Linked DNA regions of Homo sapiens. Each later gene encodes a partner of the first gene's protein in a complex. Each region holds a gene or a part of one and is shown in the gene's direction. Other genes may lie near its edges.

Region 1 (15,372 bases):
ATTTGCTAGGCGTGGTGGCGCGCGCCTGTGGTCCCATCTACTTGGGAGGCTGAGAAGGGAGGATCGCTGGAGCCCAGAACTGCGAGGCCGCAGTGAGCTATGATCGCGCCGCAGCACTCCAGCCTGGGCGACAGAGCGAGACTTTGTTTCTAGAAAAATTAAAATTACAATTAAAAATTAAAAAACAGGCAGGGCATGGTGGCTAACCCCTGTTATCCCAGCACTTTCGGAGGCGAAGGCCGGTGGATCACTTGAGCTCAGGAGTTTGAGACCAGCCTGGGCAACGTCGTGAGACTTTGTCTCTTAAAAAAAATAAAAAATCAAAAATTAAAAAAAAAAAAAACCAAAAACTCATGAGTGGGGATTGAGGGGAAGGTGTGAGCGTGCACAGCAGGGATCCTGCGTGTTCGGGGAGTGGCCTAGTCAAGGGGTGGAGCTACGGGAGGGGCGATGGAGCTGGTGGGCGTGGTCAGGGCTGGGTCTTGGAGAAGTAGGGGCCTGGTTAGGGTGGGTGCGGGTGGCGTGGAGGGCGCGAAGAGGCCTGGGCGTGGAGGTGGCCAGACTGGGGTGGATAGACGCGGTTTGGGGCTGGAGCAGGTCTGGAAGGGCGGTGTGGGGCAGCCTGCGCCTTGCTCCGGCCGACACTCAGGAGACGCGGGCCCCCCCCGCCCCCGTAGGCTTCGGCATGGAAGCCACGCTGCTGTTGGTGGTCGGCTACTCGCACTCCAAGGGCGTGGCCATCTCCTTCCTGGTCCTAGCCGTGGGCTTCAGCGGCTTCGCCATCTCTGGTGAGAACCGCGGATCCGCAGCTTGGGGGACTCTGGTCAGCTCTGTAGGGAACTTCCTGGCTCAGGAACGGGGCCTCTCAGCCTCACAAAAGGTGGAACATGAGTGGCGGGGAGGGGAGAGGGTTGAGAACGTCCCAGTGGGAATCACTCGAGTGAGATTCCGGTGTGACGCCTTCCGACTTGTCTCTCCGCCAGGGTTCAACGTGAACCACCTGGACATAGCCCCGCGCTACGCCAGCATCCTCATGGGCATCTCCAACGGCGTGGGCACACTGTCGGGCATGGTGTGCCCCATCATCGTGGGGGCCATGACTAAGCACAAGGTGGGTGCCGCAGTCCTGACTCAGTCTGCCTCCAAGTGTGTGCTTCGTACCTAACTGACCACGTGGTGGCACTGTCTCTGGGGTGCCATCCCTGCCTTTTCAGCCTCCCTGGGTCTCTGCCTCCCTTCCTCTAGGCCTCCCCCTCTCTCCGCCTCTGTTTCTCTGTCCTCCCATTTGACCTCAGCCCTATTGTCCCCTGCAGACTCGGGAGGAGTGGCAGTACGTGTTCCTAATTGCCTCCCTGGTGCACTATGGAGGTGTCATCTTCTACGGGGTCTTTGCTTCTGGAGAGAAGCAGCCGTGGGCAGAGCCTGAGGAGATGAGCGAGGAGAAGTGTGGCTTCGTTGGCCATGACCAGCTGGCTGGCAGTGACGACAGCGAAATGGAGGATGAGGCTGAGCCCCCGGGGGCACCCCCTGCACCCCCGCCCTCCTATGGGGCCACACACAGCACATTTCAGCCCCCCAGGCCCCCACCCCCTGTCCGGGACTACTGACCATGTGCCTCCCACTGAATGGCAGTTTCCAGGACCTCCATTCCACTCATCTCTGGCCTGAGTGACAGTGTCAAGGAACCCTGCTCCTCTCTGTCCTGCCTCAGGCCTAAGAAGCACTCTCCCTTGTTCCCAGTGCTGTCAAATCCTCTTTCCTTCCCAATTGCCTCTCAGGGGTAGTGAAGCTGCAGACTGACAGTTTCAAGGATACCCAAATTCCCCTAAAGGTTCCCTCTCCACCCGTTCTGCCTCAGTGGTTTCAAATCTCTCCTTTCAGGGCTTTATTTGAATGGACAGTTCGACCTCTTACTCTCTCTTGTGGTTTTGAGGCACCCACACCCCCCGCTTTCCTTTATCTCCAGGGACTCTCAGGCTAACCTTTGAGATCACTCAGCTCCCATCTCCTTTCAGAAAAATTCAAGGTCCTCCTCTAGAAGTTTCAAATCTCTCCCAACTCTGTTCTGCATCTTCCAGATTGGTTTAACCAATTACTCGTCCCCGCCATTCCAGGGATTGATTCTCACCAGCGTTTCTGATGGAAAATGGCGGTTTCAAGTCCCCGATTCCGTGCCCACTTCACATCTCCCCTACCAGCAGATTCTGCGAAAGCACCAAATTTCTCAAGACCCTCTTCTCCCTAGCTTAGCATAATGTCTGGGGAAACAACCAAAATCGCAATTTTAACAATATGCCTCTCTACCCCCGTGCACTTTTTCTGACATGGTTTTCAGGTCTAAATAGTGGCTGCTCCAGTCCATGAACTCAAAGGTTTGAAGCTACCACCATTGAACTCCCCCATGGTGGTTTCATGATGCCCCCTCCCCAATTCCTCGCACTTTATTCTCCTGGGTGGTTTCGAACTACCCTGTTTCTCAGTGGCCATTTGTTGTGTCCCTCAGGGGCTTAATGACTCAAAATCTGGGATCCTTCCCCTCTCAGACACCCCTCTTTCAGCTTAGAATTTGGGGAACCTATAGAGAAGTCACAGAATCCCATGAAAGGGAATGGGGCAGGAGCCAGGGGTGTTTTTTCCCAGTGCAGGGTTGTGTCTTTGTGTCTCTGTCTCTGTGACTGTAAATCCTGCCCTGCCCCACTCCCAATAAAAGCTTTGGTGTATAGGCTCAGTTGTTCTTGGCTGTGGAGGTCACAGGCATCCTGGTCCCCAGCCCCGTCCTCCCTCAGACCGAGGAGTTCAGGCCCCTAGCTCCTCCTTCCTCAGTTCCAGGGATCCAGGCCCCAGCCCCTCCTCCCTCAGACCCAGGGTTTCAGGCCCCCAGCCCCTCCTCTCCCGGACCCAGGAGTCCAGGCCCCAGCCCCTCCTCTCCCGGACCCAGGAGTCCAGGCCCCAGCCCCTCCTCCCTCAGACCCAGGAGTCCAGACCCCCGTCCCTCCTCCCTCAGACCAGGAGTCCAGGCCCCAGCCCCTCCTCCCTCAGACCCAGGGGTCCAGACCCCAGCCTCTCCTCCCCAAGTTTCAGCGGTCTCAGACTCCAGCCCCTCCCACCCCAGGGCTCAGGCCAGAGGAGGGGTCTAGCCATGGGAACATGATATTTATTCGGTCTCAGACCTTGTTCTCTGATCACAGCGCAAGCATCTCTGTATATTAGACCCTTTATCCGGGGCACTACTCTAGCTAAGCATACCAGAAGCGCAGGGTTTTCCTTCACTGTGGGGATGTGCAGGTCCGGCAGAACTCGGTGGGGCTCACACGAAGTTGTTGGGGAGCGTGGCGGGGGACAGGGCCTCCAGACGCTGCGGGCGACCCCCGCGGGGCGGCGGGGGCAGCTTTGGTGGCAGAGGAGGTGTGGGCGGGGGCTGCTTGGTGGCGATGTGGGAAGGGACCCAGGTATCCGGAGCATAAAAGTAGAGGTCGTAGGGGTCTTTCGGGGCGTCCAAATGCAGAACTGTGGGTGCAAAGGGGCGTGGTCATCTCTGGGCTGACCCTCCAGGCCCCCTTCCAGATCATCTCCAGGGCCGCTTTTGTGCGGCCGACCGATCAGGAGGCCGGAGAGAGGATTCCGATTCTGCATTTGAACTGAGTTTTCAATAAAAAGGGTGGGGGCCGCTGCAGAAACCAGGAGGCGTGGCGTCCGATCAGCAGCGGCGGGGCCTGCAGTGGAGGGCGGGAAGTACAGGGCTCCGGGCCGCGTACCTGGAGGGGCAGGGGCGGGGCTGGCGGGGACGGCCGGCTCTGGGCCTGAAGCCGTTTCCAACCGCATTGGGAGCGGCACTGGACTCTTGGGTGAAATTGCAGACATTTAGGGGGCTGGACGTTGCCATGGAAGAGCCAGGGCTTTCATTGACCTTGGGTGGGGGACCTGTGCTTTTTTGGCTGGCGCCCTGTAGTGCCGGGAGAGACCAGGTTATGGAAAAGTGCAGGCATTCAAGGGGCAGGGCGCTCACCCGGTTCATCTCCGTCGTCCGGAAGCCGGTGATGTGCGAAGGGCCGCTGTCTAGCTGCCCGGCGGTAAAGACACCACAGCAGCACAAAGATGCCGATCAGCAGCGCGGTCCCCGCGAAGAACAGGCAGAGGGCCCCGCCTGCTGCGCCACGTGGTCGCCCCACCAGAGTCACGCCTGAAGGGGGATACCAGCAATCTAAGCTCCTAACCCCCTCCTCTCTCAGACCCAGGGGTCCAAGCTCCTAGCCCCTCCTCCCTCAGATCCAGGAATTCCTGTTCCCAAACCCTTCTCCCTCAGACCCAGGAGTCCAGACCCCAGCCGGTCCTCCCTCGCACCCAGGAGTCCAGGCCCCCAGCCCCTCCTCCCTCGGACCCAGGAGTCCAGGCCCCCAGCCCCTCCTCCCTCGCACCCAGGAGTCCAGGCCCCCAGCCCCTCCTCCCTCGGACCCAGGAGTCCAGGCCCCCAGCCCCTCCCTCAGACTCAGGAGTCCGGCTCCTGCCCCTCACCGGTCTCCTTCACTCGCTCCACCACGATGATGGTGTTGACTCCCTCACCTCGGCTGTGCCTCTGGGGTGCCCGCAGAGTGGCAGGGGCCAACTGACTGGGGCGCCCTGGAAGAGCAGGGGGACCTGCAATCCGGGCTGAGGGAGGAGGGACGTTGGACTCCTTAGGGCCAGAGTTCTGGGGGGCCTTCAGCTCAACCATTCCTGGAGAATCTGAAGTGGGCAATTTTGGGGAGTCGGGCTGGATGGCTGCAGGTGTTCCTGGTTTGGGATTCAGGGACAGCTCATTTAGAGCAGTGGCGTCATCCTTGAAGGGCACAGGTGTTTCTGGGTAGAGACTAGTGGAGATTTGAGGGTCGGAGGTCCTGGGTACATCTGTTGCATTTTGGTAGTAGGTTGTGGGGAATTCTGTTTGGGAAATTTCGGTGGGGCTGGGATTGTGGGTCACATGGGATTCTGGGTGGGGGGTTTTAGAAGGGTCAGGATGGAGAGCTTGGAGAAATTCAGAGTTTGGGGTCTCAGTGGAGTTGAGGTCATGCTTTTCTGGGGATTTGGGGTCAGGGGTCTTGGTAGGGTTAGTGTTTGAGGTCTCGGGGAGTTCTGCCTGTGAGACTTCAGTGGCATTAAGCTGCAGAATCTCTGGGGATTCTTGGGGTGTAGTTTGCATAAGGTCAGTGTTTGGGGTCTCAGGAAATTCTGGGCGTGAAGTTTTGGAGAAGTTAGGTTTGGGGGTCTCAGGGGATCCTGGGTGTGGCATTTCAGTTGGGCCAGGTGTGGGGGTCTCAGAAGACTCTGGGTGTGCCATTTTGGAGAGGTTAGTTTTGGGCATGTCCAGGGATTCTGATATTGAGGTTGTGAGTGAGTCAGCTTTGGGGGTCTCAGGAGACTCTGGGTGCGGGGTTTCTCGGAGGTCAGGGTTGAGGGGCTCAGTGAAGTCAAGTGGGAAGGTTTCCAGGGAAACCGTATGAGGTAGCTTGGAAGGCTCAGGGTAAGGAGTCCCAGGAAATTCTGGGTTAAGGCGATCTCGTTTGGAATTTTCAGAAGCACCCTTCAGAGGGGAAGTCTCAGAGGGGTGGGCCATGTCCGGAAAGCCACAGCCCAAAGGCAGAGGGGCTGAGGGAGCGGCCTTGGACCTCAGGCCGGCGAGGAGGAAGACGAGGAAGAGGATCCGGCTGAATGATTTCATAGCTCTGGCAGATACCTATAGCTGCGGGGGAGAGCGGGAAGGAAGGGGTTAAGGCCGAAGGCTCCCAGGAGCCCCGCCCACTCCCGGAGGCCACGCCCACTGGAACACAGGTGGACCACGTCTGTCCGGGGCCCAGCTTGGCGCCAGGGATGGGAAGAGAACCCAATCGCAAGTCCCTTGGAGGCTTGTGGGGCGATGGCCCAGGTAGCCAAGAGAGACTGAGGCGCGGGGCTACTTGGGAGTCGTAGTTAATTTCCTTATCTGTTTCAGCGAGGGGTCCTAGAAAAATTGGGAAAGAACGACACTTCTCCAGGCCTCAGATCTCCTCGACTTCGACTTTAGGGAGTGTCAGGGCTTCGAGGGGACGTGGGATCTCCTTCCTCTCCGAGGTCCCCCGGGACACCTTGACTCAACAGTTGTTTACACTACAGGAGGCTCCTAACGGCTGAGGGCTGGACTCATGGATTTGAGGGAGGAGGGAGACATTTGGGCTCTGGGTTAAGAAGGTTGCTGGGGGTTCAGACTCCTGCGTCTTGCAGGGTGAGGGGGCTGAGGTTCCTGGCTCCTGGTTCTTTAGAGAGGAGAAGGCTGGAAGTTCAGGTGCCTAGAATTTTGAGGGAGCAAGGTTTGGGGGCTGGATTGCAGGGGTGAAAGGAGATAAGAGGCCTTGAGCTCTTGGTTCCTGAGTTAGAAAGGAATTGGGAGCTCTGAGTCCTCCAGAAATAGGGTCTGGGGTCTGGGCTCTGCAGAGTAGAGGGGTAGGGACTTGAAGAAGAGAGCTTTGGGGCAGGACTCTCAAGTCTGTTATTGAAGATGGAGCTAGGATTTCGGCATCTCCGGGGCCAGTCTGGGCAGAGAAGCATAGGTCTGTGTTCAGGTGGAGGTGGAGGCGGCCGACACATCGATGGGACAGGCTTACTTGAGGTCCTGGGGTCTCTTACCTGCTCTGGTGTCCAAGGTAACAGCAGATAAGCAGAGCTGGATGCAGAGAACGGTGAATGTTGCAGAACAGATCTGGGCAGGGCGGTGGGAGGTAGGGTCTCAGGGGCACACAGGTGACGCACCTCACCCCCTCCCAGGGGATCCTGGGAGCCTAGCGACAGACTTAGACTCTTAAAGGGACAGAAGTAAAGGACATTTTCTCTGGGGTGGGGAAGGGAGTTAGAAACTGGATTGATCTAGTGGAGATGTGGCCCAAATTATTTTTTTGAAACCAGTGGTCCTGGCCCTCTACCCTCTCCTACCTGAAAACCCAGGGGTCTAGTTCCCTGGTACCTTCCTATTTCAAGTCCCCTAAGTTGTATCCCCCAGCTCCCTCCCCCCAGACTCAGAACTCCAGTCCTCTAGCTCCTTCCTTCCTCAGATTCAGGAATCCAAGTCCCCAGCCTCCTCCTTCCCCAGAACATAGGAATCTGGGTCCCTGTCCCATCCACTCTTAGACTCAGGAGTCCAAGCTTCTGCCACCACCTTCCTAGGAAACTAGGAGCCCAAGTTCCCACATCCCAAGTTTCTACTGCTCTGTAGGACTTCCAAGTTTTGCCCATCTTCTCCTCACTGTGTATAAAGGCCCCTCTTTTTAAATTTTTTTTTTTTTTTGAGACAGAGTCTCACTCTGTTGCCCAGGCTGGAGTGCAGTGGTGCGATCTCAGCTCACTGCAACCTCCCTCTCCCAGGTTCAAGCGATTTTCCTGCCTCAGCCTCCCAAGTAGCTGGGATTACACCACACCTAATTTATGTATTTTTGTAGAGAAGGAGTTTCGCCATGTTGGCCAGTCTGGTCTCGAACTCCTGACCTCAAGTGATCCACCCACCACGGCCTTCCAAAGTGCTGGGATTACAGGCATGAGCCACAGCACCCGGCTGAGGCCCCTCTTAAGAGTCAGTGTGGACTGGGTGTGCTGGCTCACGCCTGTAATCCCAACACTCTGGGAGGCCAAGGAGGGCAGATCACAAGGTCAGGAGTTCAAGACCAGCCTGGCCAACAGTTTGGCGAAACCCTATCTCTACTAAAAATACAAAAATTAGCTGGGCGTGATGGTGGGCACCTGTAATCCCAGCTACTCGGGAGGCTGAGGCAGGACAATGGCTTGAACCTGGGAGGTGGAGGTTGCAGTGAGCCGAGATAGTGCCATTGCACTCCAGCCTGGGCAACAAGAGCAAGACTCCATCTCAAACAGACAAACACACACACACAAAAAGAGTCAGTGTGAGGAGGACTGGGCTTTAATCTTCACAGCACCCCCAAACTCCTCCCAGATAAGGGCTTAGACACATCCTTAGGGCAGCTCAGGAGCCCTGTCTGTTTTCCCCTCTTCTCACTCTCTGAGGTTTTTCTGATGTGGTCTGTCACTTTTCCTGTCCTCACACCCCTGCCACACGTACCCTTTGCCATTTCTTGCCTTTCCCCCCTCCCTACCTCACCCTCGATCTTTCTGGGCCTCTCGCTGCTGTATTTATCTCTGGGCAGCTCCTTCCAGACCAGGACGTCCTTCCATTTCCGTCTGTCTTTCTGAGAGCCTTTTCTTTCCCTCCTCCATCTCCATCTGACTGTTCGTTTCCATCTCCTTCGCTCTCTTTTCTTGTTTTCTTCCTTTTCCTTTCTTTTTCTGTCGTTCCCATTCTTTCTCTCTATTTCTTCCTCGGCCACTCTGTCTTTGTCCTTCTCTTTGTGTCTCTGTTCCTCTGACGGTCCTTCCGCCAGTCTCTATTTTTAGCCCTCTGACACACCCCCTGTGTCCACCTCTCTGTCTGTCTGTCTCTCCCCCTCCCTCGTCTCAGGTCCAGCTTCTGGTCCCAATTAGTTGGTGGCGGCCAAGGCAGCGGCAGGTCCCCCACCCCCGGCTCCTCATTACCGCTGGCGGCTCCTAATGAGCCTGGGGAGGGGGTGACCCCGCGTCCCCGGCCCCCCGGCCTGCGTCACTGCCCGGTGCGGGGGCTGCGGAGGCGATATAAGGGGGCTGCCACCATCGCTGCCCCAGCCCACTGCACGGTAGGGGACTGTGCGGGAAGCTGGGGGTGGATGCATGGTGGGGCCCGGGGTTCTGGGCCGGGATGCAGCCCTACTGAGCCCCTTTCTGGTTCTCCACAGGTGATGGAGACCCGCCAGGTGTCCAGGAGCCCTCGGGTTCGGCTGCTGCTGCTGCTGCTGCTGCTGCTGGTGGTGCCCTGGGGCGTCCGCACTGCCTCGGGAGTCGCCCTGCCCCCGGTCGGGGTCCTCAGGTAGGTGCCAGTCCCAGAACTCCCAGGGAGGGGTGGGAACTTGGAGAAGTGGGAAGAGAACCAAAGAGAAAGGGGACGGAAGATCCAGAAAGCGGAACAGAAGCCCAAAGAGAGGGCGACCGAGACCCAGCGAGAAGACAGAGACTAGGGGTGGGGGAAGGCGGGAGGAGGGTTTGGTGGTAGTGGTGGTGCGGGAAATGGACAGAAAATCAGCAAGGGAAAGAGACACAGAAAGATAGATCCCGAGAAAGGCGTGGAGAGGCTCGAAAGGAGTCGTTGCAGAAACGGATTCATTCTTTGAGCAACGTTTATTGGGTTCTTGGTGTGCGCCTGGCCATGCGCTGAGCGCTGTGGGCGGACAAGTGCATCAGACTCGGTCTCAGTACCTGGGGAGTTTCGAACCTGGTGAGCAGAGAGACAGAGACCCACACAGAGAACGAGAGAGACAGGGGGAGCCGGACCGAGCCACTCCACGGACTGGGCAGTAACGGGGCTTCGAGTTAGACCGCGGGGAGGACAGGCGGCGGCAAGAGCGAGTCTGGACGCGCGGTCACCGCGTCTCTCCACAGCCTCCGCCCCCCAGGACGGGCCTGGGCGGATCCCGCCACCCCCAGGCCGCGGAGGAGCCTGGCGCTGGCGGACGACGCGGCCTTCCGGGAGCGCGCGCGGTTGCTGGCCGCCCTCGAGCGCCGCCACTGGCTGAACTCGTACATGCACAAGCTGCTGGTGTTGGATGCGCCCTGAGCGCGCTGCCCGTCCCCATCTTAATAAAGACCATGCCCTGCGCTCCGGACTGCGCCTAGTTCCTGCGCGACCTGCGTGTGCGTTGGGTTGGGGGCGCGGGGCTTGAAATGGGGGGTAGAAAAGAGACAGGACTCTGTGTCGGCCACTCTGGCATCTCTCTCCTCAGTCCCCACTCTATTTTCTTTCCTCAATTCCGTTTCTCTCTGCCTGTCTTTGTCCAGGAAGCTGGCTTCTTTCCTATTTCTGGATCTCTGCTTCCCTATCGCCCCCACCCCCCCGCCCCCTCCTTTCATTCTGGGCCCCTGTCCCTCCCTACCCCCATCTCTGTCCCCTTCTCTCTGGTTCTCTGTAATCTCCAAGGTCTCTGTCCTCCTCCGTCTCTGTCCCTTTCTCTGGGTCTCTTTCCTCTCTGGGTATGTGTCCCCGTCTCCCTGGGTCCTTGTGGTTATCTCCCCTTTCACCCTTTTGGCTTTCTGGTCTTCTGGGAATCTCTGCCTCCTCTCTCTATTCTCCTTCTGCCTCTGAAACTCTTCCTTCCCTTCTCCATCACTTTCTTTTTTCCTTTTTCCTCTGCCTGACTCCTTCATATCTTCCTTTTCTTTCCTCCGTTAGGTTTCTATCTGTCTCTCCATCAGCTCTCATCTTTGAATTTCGCTGTTCCTCCCTCCCATCACTTCCAGACTTCTCCCCAGGCACAGTGGAAAGATCGCGGGCTCTGGTGTGAGGCAGCCCTAGCATCCAAACCCAGGGTCCTCCAAATCTAGCTGCGTAGTACTGAGAAAGCCTTCTTGACGTCAGTCTCTGTGTCTCCTTTTCTTCATCTGTTACGAGGATCCAATAAGATATACTTCATAAGACTTCAGTACAGCGCCCGTTACGTAGCAAAACGCTTTTATTTGAAAAGGGTTTCCTCTTCTCACAGCAGCGTCCAGCAATTTTTTTCAGGGTTTTCTGACTTCGGGTCTCCTTCTCTAGAGACCTTCGGGGCGCCAGGCTGGGGCAGGAGAAGAGAAAGGAGCAGGCGTCAGGCTCCAAAAAGGACAGGGAAAGGGCGGGAAGATACCTGGGCTGCAGGTGAAGCGAGAAAAGAGCCAATCGAAATCTGTCTCTCTCCCCGGAGGTCCAGCCTGCCCTTCAGCTCCGCCCCTCGTGGTAACCATGGCAACCCGGTGGTCCGCAGAGGGCTAGATCAGCGCGCCTGGGGCGCCGTTCGTGCGGACCGCGCTCTCATTGGTTTAAAGAAGAGAGTGGAGCCGGCCGCGTCTGCTGCGCGGGAAGCGGGGCCGCCGCGCGTGTTTGGCAAGGCGTCCCAAAATTTGCATTTTCGGGAGGCGGACCGAGCCCTAATTGGCCCTTGGACTGTGGGGGCGGGACTGTTTCCTCTGTCCTTCCGAATAACAAAGGAAAGACTGCATTCCTCAAAACTATCTGGAGTTGGCCTAATTTTACAAATAAGACTGAAAGTCAGGAGGAATTTTCCTAAGTTGTTAGAGCTACTAAGCGACAAAAGAATAACTGGAATCCGGGTATGTGCAATTTCAAAAGTCTAGACTTTTCCGCCACTCTCATGGAGAAATGGAATGAAAATGTGAATGAGCAGTTGCTATATAGCAGGCACTCTTCTAAGTGCTGTGCTTGCATTAACTCTTTTAACCTCACAAAGACCCTATGAAGAGCCTCCTCCTGTTTCCCCGCGGGCCTGGTAGCTGGGTACTGGCCTGGTCTCTTCCCACACTCTATTTTCTTCCCGATCCGTATCAGAACATTTGAGGTTTTGCTCAAAATGGTGTCTGGAGCCTCCTCCCTCCCCACTCTACTCTCAAGCAAATTCAGCAGTCCCCACAGCTTCTGCCACCACCCACAGCTGACAACACCCAGACCCCCTTCTCCAGCCTGGGAGCTCAGGGCTCAGGACTCCAGCCCCTAAATGAACTGAGTCTTTCTCTGAACTCACTCCTTATCATGGGTTCCCTATCTTGGGAATGGCTCCACTGTCTACTAGTCACTGGGCCAGGTCCCAGGGGTTGTCCTTGTCCTGCCCCTTTCGCCATCCTTCACAGCTTGTCAGTCTCCAGCCCGGTCCCTCCCACCCTGCCCTGGCTCTGCTCTTCCCTCCTCTCCACCCACATGCCCTGCCTCAGGCCTCATTCTCTCCAACCTGGACCACAGCCCCAGACTCCTCCCCACCTGCTGGCCTCCATTCTCATCCCCTTCATTCATTCATCTCCTCCACAGGCCCTGAATGCTCTTCTTCCTACCCAGAGTTCTGCCTTCCCTTGCTCACAACCCTTTTACCGGCACTAGGGAATAAAGTTCAAGCTGGTGTTCAAATCCCTTCATGGGCTCTTGCCTACCTCTCTTATTTCCCACCACTCTGTAGCCTTCAATCCCTCCCAGGCTCCAAATCTTTAAAAAAAAATTTTTTTTTTAAATCCAGCAACAGGATGCCGCCTATGGCTCTCCAGACACACTGGTCTCTTTCCCACCTCTATGACACCCTCCCTGGGCCCCTGCTGACTGTAACCCAAACCTTACCCATCTTTCAAGACTAAACACAAATGTCACTTGTCTGGAAAGAATCCTGTAACCTCCAAGCCGAATCAGTTGCCTTTTCTGGACTCTCACAGGACCTGCAGCTACCTCCATCTGTCTTTAAATAGGTCCGATTCTGTCCCTCCCTTGCTCAAAACTCTCCAAGGAAGCATCTGGGGTGCTGAAACTGTCTACTCTCTTGACCTGGGCTGTGATTTTCATGGGTATATACGTACACAAAAGTTTATCCAGCTGATACTTAAGATTTGTCTGCCTATCTGTATGTAAGCTGCGCCTCAATTAAAATGTAAAAAACCAAAGACAAACAAGCAATAAAACCTCCCAAAGCCCCATCATTCTCAGGAGAAAATCTAAGCTCCTCAGCTTGATGTTGGAGGTCCTGCTTTCCTCTACAGCTTCATCTTCTAAGGTCTAGCTGTTGCAAAGAGATGATGAACACATATTTGTTGAATGAATAAATGGCACCCTGGTGCTTTTCCTGTTTACCATTTGCACTCTAGAGGACAACTCTGGTGTGTGCCTGGTCCTCATCCCTGTCCTCCTTTTTCTGTAGAGTTGCTGCTGCCTTCGACAGCTGTGACTGGAGGGTCTGGTGGGGCTGCCAATCTCGTGATCCTTCTCCTTGGCCACAGGGATGGGCATGGGCCCCACACACTGCCTGTCATAGCAGCCCAACCCCCTGGGAGCTGGGGAAGGGGACCCTCCTTTGACTCTCCTGGTTGAAGGTGGGGCCCTGTCTCCTTCCTATCTTGGGATTTTCCCAGGCAAGGAAGGATGTTCAACTCATAGGCTGCTACAAACAGCAGACAGCCACCGTGTGAGTTCATTTGCTGAACTGGACTCAGACTGAGTTTGGATCCCAACTCTCATAATTTTTAGCTGTGACATCTAGGTCAAGTCATTTAACTTCTCTGTGCTTCAGTGTCTTCATGTGTAAAGCAATAATAGCACCATCTACTTCCTAGTGTTGAGGTGAAGATTAAATACATATCTCAAAGTGCCTAGCTCAGCGCCCTCCCACCCTGGGGCCAGCCATCCTGGGTGTCCACTCTTGTTGTTTACAGGGAGCGTTGGAGCCATGGTGTAAGGATCTTGCTGGCGGTGCTATGAGGCAGGCAAAGCTTGGGGCATTCCCTGCATAATACCATGGGCCACATGCCACACAGAGTGGGTGCCCAATCATGTATTCTTTTCGGGAGTAGGGTAGGCTTCTCAGACTCCATCTGCTTCCCTTTGGTGTCCTCAGCTTTACTCCAGCTGGGAAGGGGCTTACAGCATAATGATGCCTCAGAGCTGCACCATGCAGATGGTCCATGTGAATAAGAGGGAGGGGTTGGGGTCTCGCATGTGTTTTTTTAATTTTTTTTTTGTTTTTTGTTTTTTTTTTTAAGACACAGTCTCACTCTGTCTCCCAGGCTGGAGTGCAGTGGCACAATCTCCACTCACTGCAACCTCCGCCTCCCGGGTTCAAGTGATTCTGTGCCCGGCCCAAGAAGATTGTTCTTTATTGACTTAGGATGCAGTTGGGACTGGGTCAACCTAGGCTGCTACCCGTGGAGGGGTGGCAGGACAGAGTCAGGATCCTATCGGGGGAGGGCAAGGCAGAGCTGTAGAGAAGGTAGGAAGGAGAAAGAAATCAAGGAGAAGAGGTATCCTGGAGCCCTTCGAAGCAGCTTGGCCATGCATGCCAAGGCCACTCAGCAGCTGCACACTGGTGGTGGTGTGTAGGTGACTCCCAGAGTGTTTGTTAGGTCCATGGCCTGCAGTGTTTTTCAGTGTGAATGAGGTGTGTGGCAAGGCACTTTCAAGGTACCCAGTCCCCGCAGAGGTACTTGACCTCCCAGGTCTCCCAGCCTCCCTTACAGTTAAGGGTGGTCACACCAAACAGTCTGGCTAGTGAAACAAACACAAGTCTGCTGGTGGCTCTGGGCAGGCAACTGCTTCTCTTTTATTATGAATATGATTTGAATCTACCCACTGCACACTGAGGCTACTGCCTCTCTTTATAAAAAGGAAGGAAGAAATTTCCGTTTCCCGCAGATGTGATGTAGGAAGCTACAACTGCCAACTCCTGAGCATGAGGGAGGGGACAGGAGAATCACTGAGGCCCTGACCCCAAGGCAACCGAGACTTAGCTGTGTGCCCACAGCTGCCCTCGCCAGGCTTGTTTTGTGAGGGAATAATCCTTAGTGCTTAATCCATTACTGGGGGAGTTTTGCTATTGTTAAGAAATGTCAGCATTAAAAAACTAGGAGACTTCACATAAAAATACAGGGATGTGGATCCCCTGTACTCTATCTAGGGTAAGCCTGCGCAACAGTGGACTAACAATGGGGATCCCAGTGGAGAGAGGGCCAGGGGATTTATTGAGCTAGACACTGCTCTGAGGGGCAAGTAGAGCCTCTCACACTGGAGGGGGCTGGAGGTAGCAGAGCTGGAGGTGGGGCCAGGTGGGAGGTGGGGACGGGCCAAGCAGCAGGACAGAGAGCAGCAGCAGCAGCAGCAGGCCCAGGACAGGAGCTGGGATCAGTGGATGTCGAGTGACTCTGGTGGGGAGGTGGGAGAGCATTTAGGGCAGGGTCTGGGCAGCCCCTGCTCTTCCCAATGTCAGACCACCTCCTTCCTTCTGGAGACGCCTGGGGGCACACCTGAGCCGCTGTGGGGGCAGGCAGAGCTGGCCCCAGGCCCTCCTCCTGACTGGGACCAGCTTTTTCATCACAGGCACCAGGGCTTGCTGGAGTTCCCGCCGCGCAGGTCTGCTGGGGTGAAGGAGGGAATCACCACTGGGTTTTTCCTTGCCCCAGTGTCCCTCCTGGACCCTGTGGGTCCTATTACCTCTCTGGAGGGTTTTCTGGGATGTCTCCAGGGCGAGGGGCTCCTAGAGGGACAGGGAGATCAGCCTGCAAGGACAGAAGAGATGCGTTGGAGGCACCGGGTTCTGGACTGAGAGGTGCTCAGGTCAGCCCACTGGACACAAGTGGCCACATAGAAAGTGGTGGAGCTCAGGAGATAAGTGAGTGCACTTCTGCTGCCAGGTCGGGTTCCCATTTCTGCCAGCTTCTGGCTGAGGGTCCTTGGCATGTCACCACACCTCTCCGTGCCGCTCTTTCCCCATCTGCTGGCCAGGGATGTCCCCACCTCATAGGGTTAACATGGAGACT
Region 2 (16,277 bases), on another chromosome or scaffold:
GGATCCTGGTGGAAGGTCTCTACCTGCATAATCTCATCTTTGTGGCTTTCTTTTCGGACACCAAATACCTGTGGGGCTTCATCTTGATAGGCTGGGGTAAGACATTTATATCTCTGTTCCTTTCAAACTGGATGATGCATTTGATGACATTCTGTCATGCCCATCATTAGCATCCCTACAGCCATTTTCCTGAAACAATCCCTCCCATTCTTATTTTTTATCTCCCTTTTATTGTTCTATTCTTAGACAAAAATAATTAAGATCAAGTCTATAATTCTCCCAGTGGTGACAAACTTTTAAAGTTATTTGTGGATAGTGTTCTTAGGCCAGATTCTTGAGAGGATTCTTTGGAGGAAATATAAGAGAACTCATTGTAAGCCATACACATGTACAACTAAATGTCAGTGTTCTGCTTTATCAATAATTTCATCTTAAAATTTTTTATTTTTGAATTTCTAAGCTATAATGATATATTTTTGGTTTGTATTTCTAGGTCATATGATGAGAATGCCAGAAATGAATTTGTAGGACCATCCTGACTGTATTTAACAAATACAAATTACAAACTAATTATGTGGACTTACCATGTGTTTTAGAAGGAAATTATTCAAATTACTTCTGGCATAAGTAATTAAAAAAGTATTCAGTTCTCATTTCAAAAATGATTTAGCAGTACAAGGGGGATTACTGGATTAGACACTGACTCAACATGACATGGAGAAAAGAAATTGTTTGCTTGTTAAAAATTAAGGGAAATTAAAACTCATATGTGGTGAAAATTGAGAAGAGGTTGGAGATTAACAGTTGCAGATCTCAATTGCTATTTTAATATTTAAATTAGGAGGTGCTCAGCATAGGAAAAAAATTCACTAAGTAGCTCACGACTAAATTTGAAGGTTTTTTTCCTCTCCAAAATAAGAATATGCCTTTGCCTATTTTGCCTTAACTTTTTTTCTTAACAACTGAAATGTGAAGTAAAGAATGCTGAACTTTCTGCTAGCTAATTAATAACCTTTAAGAAGACAAAGAAAATCAATTTACTGTTAAACTTATTTATTATGAAATAATCATCACAATTAAAGTTGTATTTTTGTAGACAGCTCGTCTGTTTTAAGGCTCTTTCTTATCTTTGACTAGCAGTTACTGAAAATAAAAAAGATAATATTTTGCTTTTTTAGGATCCTTTGGAAATTTTCTTGACAATTTGTGGTAGTTTGCCTTCCTTCAAATCAAAATTATATCTGTGAACCCACATAATTATTAGGAGTTGGAAAAGGTGTTGATAGAAAATTCAATAATGAATGTAGACATTTGTTTATTTGGGTTATATTTTATTTTTCAAATTTCTTCATCATTGCTTACATTTTTAATAAATTCTTTTTTTCTCTTTATTTATGCCTTGATAGCTACCTGGTGCAAGCCTCCTTATTAACTCTTTATTTGGGCTTTATCACTCAGTCTGTCTCTCCTTACAGTTAGGAGTTTGTCCCACCGAATCTCAGAAAACACAAATCTTTCTATGAAAAAGAGAATGTGAAGAAAAGCTAAGGTGCTAGTGAGCTTCTATGCAAGTATGGTTTCTTACCTTCCTTTACAGCTTTTATTAATTTGCCCACAAAAGTTTAGGCATAGAAATGACAACTACAATAGAAATCTTCATTTCGTGAAATAGTTTGAGAACACACATGAAAACCGGTTGACTTTTCATGGAAACTGTCTGTGAACGCATTTTACATGCCACATTTTGCTCACTTAATTAGCCACAAGTCAAAAGAGTAATAACTATTCTTCATGGAATTATGGTTCTACAGCTAGTCTGTCTTCTGACTTTCTCTTTGCATTTCCATTCTTTAAAAATATACTCTAGTCTAGGGCATATATAATGAAAATAATAGTAGTATTCTTTTAAGATTCTCTGCTCCTAAAACACAGCTATCACTGAATGAAGTACATATCAAAATCTGTTTGATTTATGGATTGTCTTTCTCTTATCTCAACACTGAGAGACTGATTTAAAAACATTATTTATATATCTGACTCATTTTTCTAAATTCATTTTCTAAATGATCAAAAACATTATATATGCCTTGCAGGATACTTTGCTAGAATAACTGAGAGCGAGTCCAATTTTATACTTACTTCCAATGATGCCATTTACTGGCTTCATTAGAGCAGAGAACTTGCTTAAATTCCTTTGTTACTCATTTGGACCCAAATGTTTATAACTTTAAGCTCTTTTCAGCTAGATAAATACTCAGAACTCTGTTAGTCACATTGTAGTAATGTGTGGAGTTACACTTATATTGATTGTGATGATCCTTTTCTTTTTAAATGTTTTATTATTTTATTTCTTATTATTTGTTAGAGATGTGGTCTTATTATGTTGCCCAGGCTGGTCTTGAACCCCTGGCCTCAAGCAATCCTCCTGCCTCGGCCTCTCAAAGTGCTGGGATTACAGATGTGAGCGACCATGTGCAATCTGATTATGATGATTCTTAAAAATAAATTGGAAGGAGGCTGGGCGCAGTGGCTCACGCCTGTAATCCCAGGACTTTGGGAGGCCGAGGCGGGCGGATCATGAGGTCAGGAGATTGAGACCATCCTGGCTAACACGGTGAATCCCTGCCTCTACTAAAAATACAAAAAATTAGCCAGACGTGCTGGCAGGCGCCTGTAGTCCCAGCTACTCAGGAGGCTGAAGCAGGAGAATGGCGTGAACCCAGGAGGTGGAGCTTGCAGTGAGCTGAGATCGCGCCACTGCATTCTAGCCTGGGTGACAGAGCGAGACTCCATCTCAAAAAAAAAACAAAAAGAAAAATAAATAAATAAATAAATAAATAAATAAATAAATAATAGGAAGGAAAGGAAATGACAATCTGAAGAAGAATAGGTGTCATATCTGACCTTTACTAAATTAAGGACAAATATTTAAAATAACTGTTTTTACATTTTATTATTATAAAACAAGATGCATAGAGAATAAAGGTGAATACTAATGATAACTGTTTCTTTTCATTCAACCAAGCACATTATTATTTTCCCCATCCTTGTCTCAGTTTTCCCATAAATAAGGTGCTTTATTCTTAGTTCCATTTTATTTCAACTACACATTTTCCTCTATTTTAATTCTGTATGTAAAAGGTATCTCTTTTTTTTATTGTTACTAAATATGGTAATTTGCTTCTATATTAGTAGCCATCCTTAATTTTCAACTGTCAGATGAAACACCAGTATGTACATATCATCATATAAAACCACCTATCCTAGTAATACCATCTTACATAGAATATTTTCACATAATATGTTCCCTGAAAATAATCAGGAAACAGTCCCACACTCCCATTTTATTCCCTTTGTAAAATATCTTAATCCAGCAAACATTTTTTGATCATCCACTTGGCAGTAAGTGTTTAAACACAGAGACAGGTGTTAAAGTCTCCCACACAAGATGCATGCACTCTGACCCTTTAGGTTATTTTGTTTGTTTTCTTGTTGTGATCATATGTATCATATTCAACATTTTTAATTTGTAGTTATTTTAAAGTTAATTTAAAGTTTTGTCTTCACAAAACTTATTTATTTTGTATTGACGTGTCTTATGAAAATAACTCCACTTTGGGAGGCTGAGGTGGGCGGATCATGAGGTCAGGAGATCGAGACAATCCTGGCTAACATGGTGAAACCCCGTCTCTACTAGCCGGGCGTGGCAGCGTGCGCCTGCAGTCCCAGCTGCTGGGGAGGCTGAGGCAAGAGTATGGTGTGAACCCGGGAGGCGGAGCTTGCAGTGAGCCGGGATCATGCCACTGCACTCCAGCCTGGGTGACAGAGCAAGAATCCGTCTCAAAAAAAAAAAGAAAATAACTCAACTTTCAGTAAATGCACATACTAGATAACATTTAAATTTATATTAAATTTACTTAATTTAACATTTAAATTTAAAACAACATTTACATGTCAAGTATTTTTGCCTTTATTTCTGTGTTCTAAATTATGTAACAATTCATATTAAGACTCGTGATAAAAAATCCTTAAAGGATCCCAAAGTAGTTTTCTGTTCTTCATTCTTCCATGGTAGTCTCTATGCTAGTCTTATGCATAAGATTCTCTAAGAAGGTGAGAAAAGCAATTCTATGAAGACATAATGCCTGTGTACGATATTTGACATAATTATCATCTAAAACATAATGCCAACTCAACCACCATTAATAAATACTGTATAGAACAGCATTCAGGAAGTACCTGATCAGAAGAATGTAAAGGAAGCAGAAGATGCAGATATAAGAATGATAAGATGTGAAAATTGATGAAAGACAGGCAGACACTTTTTGAAGACAACCAAGATAGAACAGCTGAGGGATCTATGTCAGGCCATGTGGTAGAATCTATGCCAGACTGTATGGTGGATTTATATCTAATCATCCTACCAGAAGCAGCTGTCCCCTCCCCATTACATAGTATCACTTTTATTTATTCTTCATAGCACCAATTCATAACCAAAAGCAACTGAAGTTGCTTTGTTAATTTTGACTGCTTCACCAGAATATAAGTTTTAGAAAACAGGGATATTGTTTATTTGTTCATTATTTATATCATTTAGAACAATCTTTGACACATAAATAGACAATAAATGATTAATGGAGAAATGTGATAGATAGATAGATAAATAGATAGATAGATAGATAGATAGAATATGCAAACTGAACCTAAGAAATAACCAGAATTAGGTAGGTCTATTTTGACAAAAAATTCCTAGAACACAGAATTTGAGCAGATTAAAGAAAGAATACTATAGAAACAAGAAATAAAATTGGAATATAGAATCATAAAATTCAGTAGTGATATAGGCAGGCTGAACTTAAGTTAGATGGTCACTAAGGAGACCAAAGACATTATTGTGCATATCATCATTTTCATCTTTTTCTGAAAATTTTCTTTTTCTAAGCCTATTTCTTTGTTCACTTTGTTGCTAAGAAAGAATATAAAAAAATTACAATTTTTTTAAAGGTTAAGAATTTAAAGTTATGCTTGATAAAAAATGTTCTTGGCTAGACCAAAATTTTGTTTTCCCCTTTTGTAAGGTGCTTCCTAGATTCTAAAATGTTTTCCTTATGGTTTCTGTATATCCTTTATTTAAACCACTTTCATAAAGGCCACATAATGAAAAGTCATCTCTTAAGTCTTTCAGTCCCCTACTGCAGTATTCCATATAAGTTATGGTTCATGATTTTTTTGTGTGTGATGTCAGAGTTTAATCAAATACAACATGAGCTGGACAGTGAACTTTTACTGGGGGGCAAACGAAAGTCGGTATAATGGATTTGATGTTACAAGCCCAGAAGGTGTTTAGCACTTATGAAGGACAAATATCTCGCGCTCAAATCATCAGACAAATATAGTGGTCACCCTTTTCTATTAATGCATGAAAATGCTTCTGTCTTGTGCCAACGTGAACTAAAAGAAGAGACTAAACTGGTTAAAACTTCCTGATTTTTATAACTTGCCTCAGTATGCCTTCCATTTTTAGGATGAAAAAATTCTAAGTTTTTAAAACAACAGCATCCCTCAGCTTTTCAGGAGTCCCTGTGTTGCTTCACTCCTTGAGAGCATATGATGGTCAGCGTGACAAGAGTCAAAGTCAAATGCCAACCATTGCTTACTTCCAACCCTAGGAACTTCACTCTTCTCCAAATATGGCTTTTCCCTACACCCCTCAGATGAAAATTAGGCCAGTTTTTATCTTCAGACTAGAGGAACAAATAACATCAATATTCTTGCTAATTTCTCAAACTGACATGATTAAAAATTAAGTGGACTTTTCTTGTTCACATATCAGAAATTTTCATGTCTATTTTTATCTCTGAACAGCTAATAGTATATTCTTATATATGGTGAATTTGAGGAAAAAACCTCCTTAATCTTAAAATAAATCTAGTCTCTGAATCATTTTCTGATTTCAGGGTTTCCAGCAGCATTTGTTGCAGCATGGGCTGTGGCACGAGCAACTCTGGCTGATGCGAGGTGAGTGAAAAGGCAGGGGAAACGAGAGAACCTCAGATGTTCTCAAGACTCAGGCTTCCTGCTCAGAATTCACACTCGCTTCTGTTCTTGATGCCATTGCTTTTTAGGGATGCCACAAGGAAAATTACCTTGATGCGATGGTAGCTTCCAACACATTACCAGCAAGCTGTCTATTCCAGAGGTCATAGAGCAGAAACACTCGCAGACTAGATGAAGGTGCCTGACCTCCATAGATTAAGAAACAAATGTAAAATATAATGTGAGAAGCAAGTGGAAAGAGATGGGTAAGAGAATCCACTTAGGATTTAGTGAAAGCAGGTTGAAGAACTACACTACCTGATTCCTAGGATAGGCAGTGTTCATACTCTCTCTCTCTCTCTCTGCCACATCAACTTTTCCTGAGGATGGTGTGGTTATGAGGACCTGCGATAAGGTAGCACGAAGGGGAACTACAGACAGAATCTGGTGCCCTGGGCCAGTGACACATACTTCCTCATAGAGATGGAGAGGCAAGTACACTGGCTACATTTGTAGCTTCTGAATTAGCCTGCAGAGAAGTTCTGGGTTTTATTTGTGGCCCTTGGGAAAAGGACATGTGGGAAGGAGTTCCATCAATCCATGAATCCTCAAAATCAAAATATTTTTGAGGCTGATAATGCCCTCAAAAATATTAAGAACTTCCTTTGTATCAGGGATTGTTCATGGCTCTTGTATATTTAGTATATTATGAATGTTTAGAGCTCAGTTGCCTCATGTGTCTTTAGTACCTGGGTTTAACACACGTGTGGTCTACTAACTCATCCTTATCTATATTTAATGCAAACTGTGGGTTTCATGCATCCCATTTGTTACCATATCTTCTATAGCAGAATTAAATATTTTAAAATAATAAACACATATTAGAAGTGGAATTTATCTCTAACTGTGAGTCATTAAGTTCTTCCAGGTAGCATGGAGCTAATTTAATGTGTCATTTTAAAGTACAAGAAAACAATGCTATAAATCATTTAAAATGTATCATTTTTAAGGATACATTTTAATGTATCATGGTACACCTAATACATTTAAATAACCATTTAAGTGTAAAGGGTACATTTGCATTAAATAGTAAAGAATCCTTTCTTTATATTTTGACAGACCTGAGTTCAAATCTTGATTTAACTGCTTTGTTAGGTTAGGGACCAACGGACCCAAAACACATGATCTCTTTGTGTATCAGTTTCTCATGTATAAAGCAGAGATAATAATGTATAGATGACATTAATACATTATTATGAACACTTAGCATAGTACCTGGCACTAAATGGGAGTGTGCTGAGAAGGAGCTCAGGTACAGGTGTCTTATAGGCTTGTTCTGCTACTTCTTGGTTCTGGAACAGCAGATGTACAACCTAACCTCTCTGAGCCTCAGTTTTCTCAGCTGTCAAATGCAGTTAAAATGAATACTACTCTTTACAGAGTTGTTGTTGTAAGAATAAATGAGATAATGTATGTAAAATAACTAATGCAAAGTTTGGAATGTACTGATAGTAAGTGCTAAATACTTGTTAGCAAGTATTATTCTTTGGCTTCATTAATTTGTATTCACAAGTAATGTCTAAAGAATTAAAAAATAGCATTTTTGTATATTGTTATTTCATTAGAAAGCCAAACTCATCCTTCCATTAATCCTAGCTTATAATATTTTGATTTTTATCCCGTCAAGTTGATGGAACCCTGGTTCTGCTGAAGCTAGAGCTTATAAATTAGGCTGTAGAAAAGATGAGGGGTGGAGGCCTTATAGACCCTCATAGGCCAGATTAGGATGTTTGGTCTTCGTTCAGTGATAACGACAGCAAATTTGCATTTTGTGAAGATAATTACCAGAACATTGGGTAATAATACGTGATGTTGGAGGAAAGTAATAATGAAAACATTTTCTGGCATTTCTGAGTGCTGATCACATTCCAGGTACTTCATAATTTTGCAAATATTAAGTAAGTTAAAACTCATTATTAACTCTATGAAACTGAGGTCAGAGAAGTTGTGCTCAAGGTTGCACAGCCACGAATGGTAGAAAAGTACTTTGATCTCAGATATTCAGGCTCTAGAGGCATTCAGAAAACACTTACAGGCGGATGAGGTGTTTCTATTGAGATAAGTGGAATTTTTATTATATGTGAAGGAGTAGAGTTGAAGAGGGATTCTTTCTACAGTATCACTGATAGCTTCTCACTCTTCAGTTGATTTAACACATCTGGTAATCAAGAGTACACAGTGGAAAATGTCCAGCATACACTAGACAGTTTTTCTCTTATCTTCACTATGTCTAGCCTTTTGTCTTTTTACCTCAGAGAGGTAAAACTTCTAGTTCTTTCTGTTCTCTAAATCAGAAATAGGTTATCACCTACCATTAACTTTTCAACAATTCCCATTTTTTGTTGACATATAAGCTCATGCCTGTGTATTTGTATTGCATGTATACATGCAGTGTTGTCTCCTGGCATATGTTTTTCTCATTCACATGATAAAATTAAATATATCTGCATTTCATGGTGAAAACCATAACTACAAATGCTCTACCTTGTTAGTGCGTTTGAAATCTACTATTCTACCATATAAATCTTCCTTATCAAATTCCTGCAGCATTTAGTATGCATATTATATAATTATTCCTTTCTTATCTATCATCTTATTTCTCTAAATGTGCAAGTGTAACTGTCTCATTTTTCCAACAAACCATGAATTCCAAATGGGCATAAATGAAATTCCCTGTTTTACAGTAGATAACTCTTCAGTGCATGCTGATCAATTCTTCTGGATTCGGCTGACCATTTTTTCTCTCTTTGCTCCATATCTATTAAGCAATGATAAAGTTTGAGTTAATGCAAGTTGTGAGTTATAAGGAGGTGTGGTTTTTCTTCCATTCATGACTTGCAGCAGTCATTCTCAGCCTCAGTCTTCCATCTGTGAGATGAGAATAATATTCTTGGCCATGACTAATGCTGTGAGTTTGCAGGGGACAGATCTGAGAATTAGATGAGAGGCCATTATGAAAGGGCTTTGTAAACTCCAAATTTTAGACAAACAATAAATGTTACCTTCATTGTGCGTAAAGAAACAGTAACTTTTAAGGCCCGATCATTATATATAAACAGAAAAAAATCTTGACCGCCCATCTCCTATCATTCCTTATAAGTGTCTGATAGCTTGTAAGTCGCCCTTTACTTCTGTCTGACCCAAGTGCCTCCGGGGCTGACTGCAGGGAGGCTGCCTGGTAAAGGCTTTCAGTTGGCTCAAATGGACTTTGGCCAGAGCCCCCCAGTTGTCTGTGTTTCTCTTGAGGGGCTACATGATGAATGAACATGAAAAAATTCTTTTTTTTTTGGTATTATTTCTATTTAAATAATGATGAGAAAGAATAGGAAAAAGTAGAAAAGCATTCAGGTAACTGCGCTTTGCTCTCATGGTCAAGCTTATTGCTATGGACTGAATTATGTCTCCCAAAATTCACATGTTAAAGCCCTAACCCCCAATGTGACTCTATTTGGAGATAGGGTCTATAAGGACCTAATTAGGGTTAAGGAGGTCATGAGAGTGGGGCCCTGTTATGAAAGGATTAGTGTCCTTATAAGAAGAGATGCCAGAGAGGCTGGCTCTCCCTCTCTCTCTGTGCACACAAAGAAGAGGTCATGTGAGCACACAGTGAGATGGAGGCTACTTACAAGCCAAGAAGAGAGGTCTCACCAGAACAGGACCATGCTGGCACCCTGATCTTGAACTTCTAGTCTCCAGACTGAGAAAATAAATGTCTATTGTTTAAGCCACCCAGCCTGTGGTATTTTGCTATCACACGTCAAGCAGATTAACACACTTATGATAAAGAAAAGGTAATTTAAAGAGAGGCAGCTTTAACCTATATATGCAGTAATGCCAAGCATTCTTTTATGTTAATAGAGAACAATTTAATATCCACAGATTGTGTACGCTTTGTGACAGCAGTTCCCTTTTTGTTATCTCCTGGGAACTTTATTTAAGCCAATATATTGTTTTGAGTTACTAGATATTTCCTTCAGGAATTATTTTGTCTGCTATGCACTGAAAAAAAAATCACATACTGTGAATACCTAAACTCTATAAAGAACCTGTCACTCACTGTTCCTGAAAATTAGAACTGTACAGAGTCATTGTCTTTAGGTGCAGCCTTCCTCCTACTTGCTTCAAAGCTCCCCATTCATCAGCTTCCCTCAGTTCTAAAACTTGCTGGCTTTGCATTTTTCCTTACTTTGATCCCTTTATGCTATTTGAATTTGTTAACAATTGAGGGTTGATGTTATCTAATTGACATCATTATTGCTATATACACACAGTGAGATTGCAAATCTCAAAGAAAACTTGCAATACCTGTTACTTGATTTACATGGGAGGGAAGTTGCATCAGTAAAGAGGTACTAATTAATGCTATCATGATCATATTCTGAGATGTGTAACTGTATGACCTAGATTCAGAATTTTAGAGATGATAGGACTTAAGGCATTTTCTGGTTCAATCATCCCATATTAGAGATAAGTAAAATGTGATCCAGAGACATCAGGACACATTCTCAAAGCTTACCGCTAGACTGAAGCAGAATTTTGACTCATTCATTCAATTAGTTATATCATGTGACCACCTTGCAAAATATTCCACTTTCTTCCTAACTTATCAGAATAAAATCTTGAATTCTACAGTGCCCAGATCTGGGATAATTGGATGAAGGGTCATTTTATATTTAATTTTGCCTGTAAACATAAACTGTGTTGCCACTTCTCTGAGATGATTTCAAAATTGCCTGATTCAACTTCACATAAAATTCAGCTTTTCTATAGATAAAGTTTTTGTGGGTTTTCTTGGGTGTTATCTGACCTATATAGCGCCATATGACAACACTCTGGGGAGAGAACAGATTTTAAATATCTTCAAAGGATGAATGGGGTTCATATTCATGTCTTATATTTGAGACTCAATGTTTTCTAATCTGGCCTTTCAAAGTGAAACCTCTGATTTTCTCTGCATCTTGGCTATTTGGAGATAAGCATGTCAGACCCAGTTTTAAAAGATACCTTAAACTCTATTGATATACAAAAGAAGTCTCTTTCAGATTTAAAATTCTATTAGGTGTTATTTGGGCTGGGCAAGGTGGCTCATGCCTGTAATCCCAGTGCTTTGGGAGGCCAAAGCAGGCTGATCCCTTGAGGCCAGGGGTTCAAGACCAGCATGGCCAACATGGTGAAACTCCGTCTCTACTAAAAATGCAAAAAAAATTAGCTGGGCGTGGTGGTGCGTGCCTGTAATTCCAAATACTTGGGAGATTGAGGCAGGAGAATCGCCTGAACTGGGGAAGCAGAGGCTACAGTGAGCCGAGATCACGCCACTGCACTCCAGCCTGGGCAACAGAGGGAGACTCTGTCTCAAAAAAAAAAAGAGTGTTATTTTACTAAGGTCAGCTAAGATAATCAAGTAGGTTGGGCAAATTAAATTAAAAAGTGAGCAATTTTGTTCTCTTTCTTTTTACTTACAAAAGCAAAAACACCTTACACGGTAATCTGATTATCTTCTCTTTGCCTCATTCGAAGGAGATAAGAGATGCCAATGAGAGAAGAAACCCATAACTTCTTTGCTGTATTTTTGTTTCACCATCCAGCAGCAAAGGTGGGGGCTGCAAAGGACCAAGAAGCCATCTGACATTTCTAGAACATCTGCACAGGCTTTTGGGGTCAGCTTCTTTCGCTTCTTCTACTCTTACTGATTGTAAGTTGTGGAGAGAAGGTAGTGCTCAGCCAATTCAATTCTCTGGATCCCTTGGGCAGAACAACACACCTGTTTTCAACCCTGGCTGTAGGAAGTTCCACTTTCTAGTCAGACCTTTGTATCTCATGCTTCACCATCCAGAACTGCATTTCCTAGAAGGTTAAAGTTTATTAAAAAAATTTGAACAGAGAGTAATTTCTGGGACATGTTAACAAAGACAGTGTGAGTGGGAACATTGAAGAATTAACTAAAAACAAGCATTAATAACATTTTCTTTAAAAAGTTTGAAATCTCAATTTTCTTTCCTATATCACAGGGGAAATTTGAAACTTTGACACTGAAAACCATCAAAGACAAGTTTTTCATGTTTTTAGAGGTAGCTGGTTTTGACCTACTTCCAAATGCAAGCATTTTATAGAGCCTGAATTGTATAATTGAATCCCAATGTGTTAGGAGACACCATGATGAAATGCCATTAAAGCAAAGAAAGAAGACTGTGAAGATATTACCAAATGTCAAAAACTGAAAAGAAAATTTAGGGAATCCGAAAGCCTTGTAGCTTAGATCTTGGCTAAGTGAATCAATGTTCAATTTACAGTCACATGATATATGCCACCTTCCTTATGGTAGAAAGCTTTTTTAGGGTAATGTGATTCTGCATAACTCAGTAACATTGTCTTTTATCTTTCTTGTCTGGTTAAATAATGTGAAAAACAGATACATGTAAACAATGCCAGAAAATGTTCAATAATATGCAAGTGTAAGATTTTTGTGTCTTAAATTTCCATGTTATTCAAACTTCAAGACAATTGAATATGTGCATTTCATTTTGGCTGGACCAGAATTACACTTTAGTGTAGGTTCTGGTTGATTTGGCTGTGGTATATTCTCCCACTGGAATGTGGAGCTGCTGAGCTCTATTGGTACAGATATGCAAAGAAATAAAACATACACTTTTAAAAGGAAAAAGCAAATTGCAGAATAGTGCATACATGACATTTTTGTATGATAGAGGAAAGTAAGAATATAACCTTTGTATTTGTTTGCATATGCATAAACATGGGAAGCATACACAATATGGTAATAAAAGGTGTTATCTGTAAGGAGAGGGATGGGGGCAGAGGCAGACAGGAACATGGGGAGGACTGAGACATCTCAATGGCTGTCTTTTTATATAGTTTGATTTTAAAAATGAGAACATATTGCCTCTATGTAAAAGTTAAACTTAAAAATATGTAGTTCTTAGTGTGTACTGAAAATGTTTTACCCTTAAGGAAAAGTCAAAATGGTATTTTATTATCTATAGCTTGCTCATTAATAAAAAGTAAGTTCGTGATAAGTTCATTATCTAGAATTAAAAAACTATCATTATATCCCACAAATTTCTTTATATTATTTGCCATTGCCACAATCAATACTGGGTTTTGTGAAAAGAGAAAGAAACTTAAGACTTTTATTTGTGCGTCTTTTGTTTCAAGTGTTATATTAAAGTGCCAAGTCGTACTAGTTTCTTATCATTTCTGTGCTATTTATTCCAGTGTAAGATCTTTACTAGTACAAACCAGATTGGGTGAGCATGAGTAAAACTTAATTTGAATTCAATTGATGTCAGTTCAATCCAATAGATATTTATTGACTACCTACATACTGTTCTAGGACTTGCAATACATCAGAACACAAAAACAACAGTGATCTCTGCCCATGTAGAACTTAAACTCAAGTTAGGGTGGAAGGGAAGCACCAAATATAAAAAATAGGCAAATTATATAATTTTTAAATTAAGTACTGTTAAAAACAAACTTTTTAAAATTAGGATAAGGTCGTGGATCTTATACAAATAGAAAATGGACAGCTGTCAAAGATTTTTAAAAAAATTTTTATTTTAGGTTTGGGGGTACATGTGAAAGTTTGTTCCGTAGATAAACATGTGTCACAGAGGTTTGTTGTACATAATATTACATCACCCAAGTATTAAGCCCAGTACCCAATAGTTATCTTTTCTGCTCCTCTCCCTCCTCCTACCTTCCCCCCTCAAGTACACCCCAGTGTCTGTTGTTTCCTTCTTTGTCTTCACAAATTCTTATCATTTAGCTTCCACTTATAAGTGAGAACACGTGGTATTTGGTTTTCTGTTCCTGTGTTAGTTTGCTAAGGATGATAGCCTCCAGCTCCATCCATGTTCCTGCAAAAGACATGATCTTGTGTTTTTTTTGTGGTTGCATAATATTCCATGGTATACATGTACCACGTTTTCTTTATTCTGTCTGTCATTGATGGGGATTGAGATTGATTCCATGTCTTTCTTTGCTATTGTGAACAGTGCTGCGATGAATATTTGCATACGTGTGTCTTTACGGTAGAATGCTTTATATTCCTCTGGGAATATGCCCAGTAATGGGATTGCTGGGTTGAATGGTAGTTCTTCTTTTAGCTCTTTGAGGAATCGCCATACTGCTTTCCACAGTGGTTGAACTAATTTACACTCCCACCAACAGCATATAAGGGTTCCCTTTTCTCTCTAACCTCACCAGCATCTGTTATTTCTTGACTTTTTAGTAGTAGCCATTCTAACTGGTGTGAGATGATATCTCATTGTGGTTTTGATTTGCATTTCTCTAGATATTTTAACCTCATTAGTTAATGAGGGAACTACTAAGGTGTTATGATTGGTTCCAAGGAGAAATCTAAAGAACCACATTTACATTCAGTACAATAAATACCAAAAATTTACAAATAAATGCAAAAACTACTCAATATTTACAGGATACTAATCAATTACATTCCACTGAACATCATAGCTAATTTTCATTTCTATGGACAGGAATAGTTTGCGTTCATTTTCTATTGCATTTCTATGAATAAGAATAACTTGCATTATTGTAAGGATTCTACAATTTTTGAAGTAAAATAGAATTGCTGTAATGTCTGTGAGAGAGAACTTTCTTTATCAGTGAATTTAAATTATCATGGCTCATTCCAATAATAGTAAAAGTGAAGTATCAGTTGTATGACATTTAGAAGACTATTACCTTTTGTGGCTCTGGAAACATGGTTGACTCTCGTCACAATAAAAGTAATTCACTAATATTTATAATTCTCTACTCATCTTCAAGGGGTAGCTAATAATATGAAAATCAATACCCGTTACACTTTTTCCCCCCACTGGCTTGGGTGTTTTAAGATAAGATTTCTTTGTCTATTTGTTTCTTAATTGGAAGTGTGGGGTTGGAGTTTTTGGTAAAACTTAAAATTCTACTTAATACTACCCATTTGCTTTGCCAATTTATTCATGACAGCTTTTTTTCAATGTCTCAGGTGCTGGGAACTTAGTGCTGGAGACATCAAGTGGATTTATCAAGCACCGATCTTAGCAGCTATTGGGGTAAGTTTAAAAGTTTGTATAGTTAAAAAAGGGATGAAAAATTAACCTGCTGCTAAAACCCAGAGAAAGTGTGTCTGTCACTGCATTCTACAACAGATCTGAGAAACTGACAAGTACAGCAACATCTATTGGGAGAGTCTGGGACAGAGATCAGACCCTTATTGTGACTGACACTGAGATCCATGCAGAAAGCCTTCCTTTAATCAGCTAGCACTTGGGGTCAATTCCGAGACTTCAAAATATCTATGAGCATTTATATGTTTAGGGAGTTGGAAGGCCCTATGTCTCCTTTTCATCCACGATATTATTTTACCACTTTAACATTCTGATCACCTGGTAGTAGGTCAGTGTGACAGGGAGGAAAAGGTGGAATAGCAGGAAAACAGAGAAATTACTGAGAGAGAAGAATGGTAATATGATGTATAAAGTATTCCCTAAATCTTTTATTTGGCATACTTTCCCCAAGGAGTTAAGTACATCTTATACCAAGAAGTATCCCACATAATTCTATCTAATAGGTATTAGATAGAATTGAAAGTAATGGCAAAAAACACAATTACTTTTTCACTAACCTAATAATAGGGAGAAAGACCACAATGCATGTTGCACTGGACCTTATCTGCCTATAATATTTCCAATGCACATTGCATCTGTGTTGCAAAGGAAAACAAAACCACACACTTCTTTGTATCTAATAAAACTTATCAAAATGTTTACTCTTGATCTTCTTTGAAGACTTTAAGGCATCAGCTTCTTTTGGGTTGTTGAAGAAATTACACCACCTTGTGTTTTCCTGGTGTTCATGTATGTAATACATATTACAAGCATTTTAAAAAAATAATTACTATCTTGATAATAAATGTTAAATTAGAAAACAATGTAGCAACTTGATTATTAACTAATTTTGATGTTTTTCTTTGTTTCCCAGTTTCATATTCTTCTTGTTTTCTTTTGGACAATGTGTCACCTACTTTGTCAGAAGGGCAGCTATTAATGTAGTTGAGGTATTGTAACCTCATCCAAAGAATCAGATAAAAGCTTATTTACCTCATAGGAAAAATGCATAAAGAAAATAGGAGAGATCAAAAGGAATCTTCAGTTTAGAAG

Evidence for each region.
Region 2: the proteins of PTH2 (region 1) and PTH2R are in contact, whole or in part, in a cryo-EM structure (PDB 7F16), measured with the Homo sapiens proteins. Residues at the interface, in NP_848544.1 of Homo sapiens: Ser62 (codon at 9,539), Leu63 (codon at 9,542), Ala64 (codon at 9,545), Leu65 (codon at 9,548), Ala66 (codon at 9,551), Asp67 (codon at 9,554), Asp68 (codon at 9,557), Ala69 (codon at 9,560), Ala70 (codon at 9,563), Phe71 (codon at 9,566), Arg72 (codon at 9,569), Glu73 (codon at 9,572), Arg74 (codon at 9,575), Ala75 (codon at 9,578), Arg76 (codon at 9,581), Leu77 (codon at 9,584), Ala79 (codon at 9,590), Ala80 (codon at 9,593), Leu81 (codon at 9,596), Glu82 (codon at 9,599), Arg83 (codon at 9,602), Arg84 (codon at 9,605), Trp86 (codon at 9,611), Leu87 (codon at 9,614), Tyr90 (codon at 9,623), Met91 (codon at 9,626), Lys93 (codon at 9,632), Leu94 (codon at 9,635), Leu95 (codon at 9,638); in NP_005039.1 of Homo sapiens: Thr31, Ile32, Ile34, Gln37, Ile38, Asp68, Gly69, Leu70, Ile90, Tyr91, Asp92, Phe93, Met112, Lys117, Ala120, Tyr122, Leu126, Gln130, Pro131, Ser134, Lys137, Gln138, Phe141, Glu142, Tyr152, Arg190, Ile194, Lys197, Val201, Ile205.

The regions. Positions count from the first base shown.
Region 1 is NC_000019.10:49,416,754-49,432,125, reverse strand, and holds PTH2 (tuberoinfundibular peptide of 39 residues preproprotein), read left to right. Parts: upstream 1-8,684; 5' UTR 8,685-8,786; coding exon 8,787-8,914; intron 8,915-9,483; coding exon 9,484-9,658; 3' UTR 9,659-9,707; downstream 9,708-15,372. Other genes in the region: SLC17A7 (vesicular glutamate transporter 1), read left to right, coding at 678-788, 984-1,111, 1,314-1,607; GFY (Golgi-associated olfactory signaling regulator precursor), read right to left, coding at 3,308-3,507, 4,007-4,180, 4,513-5,695; protein KASH5, read right to left, coding at 14,616-14,757, 14,860-14,970, 15,047-15,111. UniProt on the Homo sapiens protein: Plays a role as a potent and selective agonist of PTH2R resulting in adenyl cyclase activation and intracellular calcium levels elevation. Induces protein kinase C beta activation, recruitment of beta-arrestin and PTH2R internalization.
Region 2 is NC_000002.12:208,444,792-208,461,068, forward strand, and holds part of PTH2R (parathyroid hormone 2 receptor isoform 1 precursor), read left to right. Parts: coding exon 1-96; intron 97-5,957; coding exon 5,958-6,018; intron 6,019-15,103; coding exon 15,104-15,170; intron 15,171-16,277. UniProt on the Homo sapiens protein: This is a specific receptor for parathyroid hormone. The activity of this receptor is mediated by G proteins which activate adenylyl cyclase. PTH2R may be responsible for PTH effects in a number of physiological systems.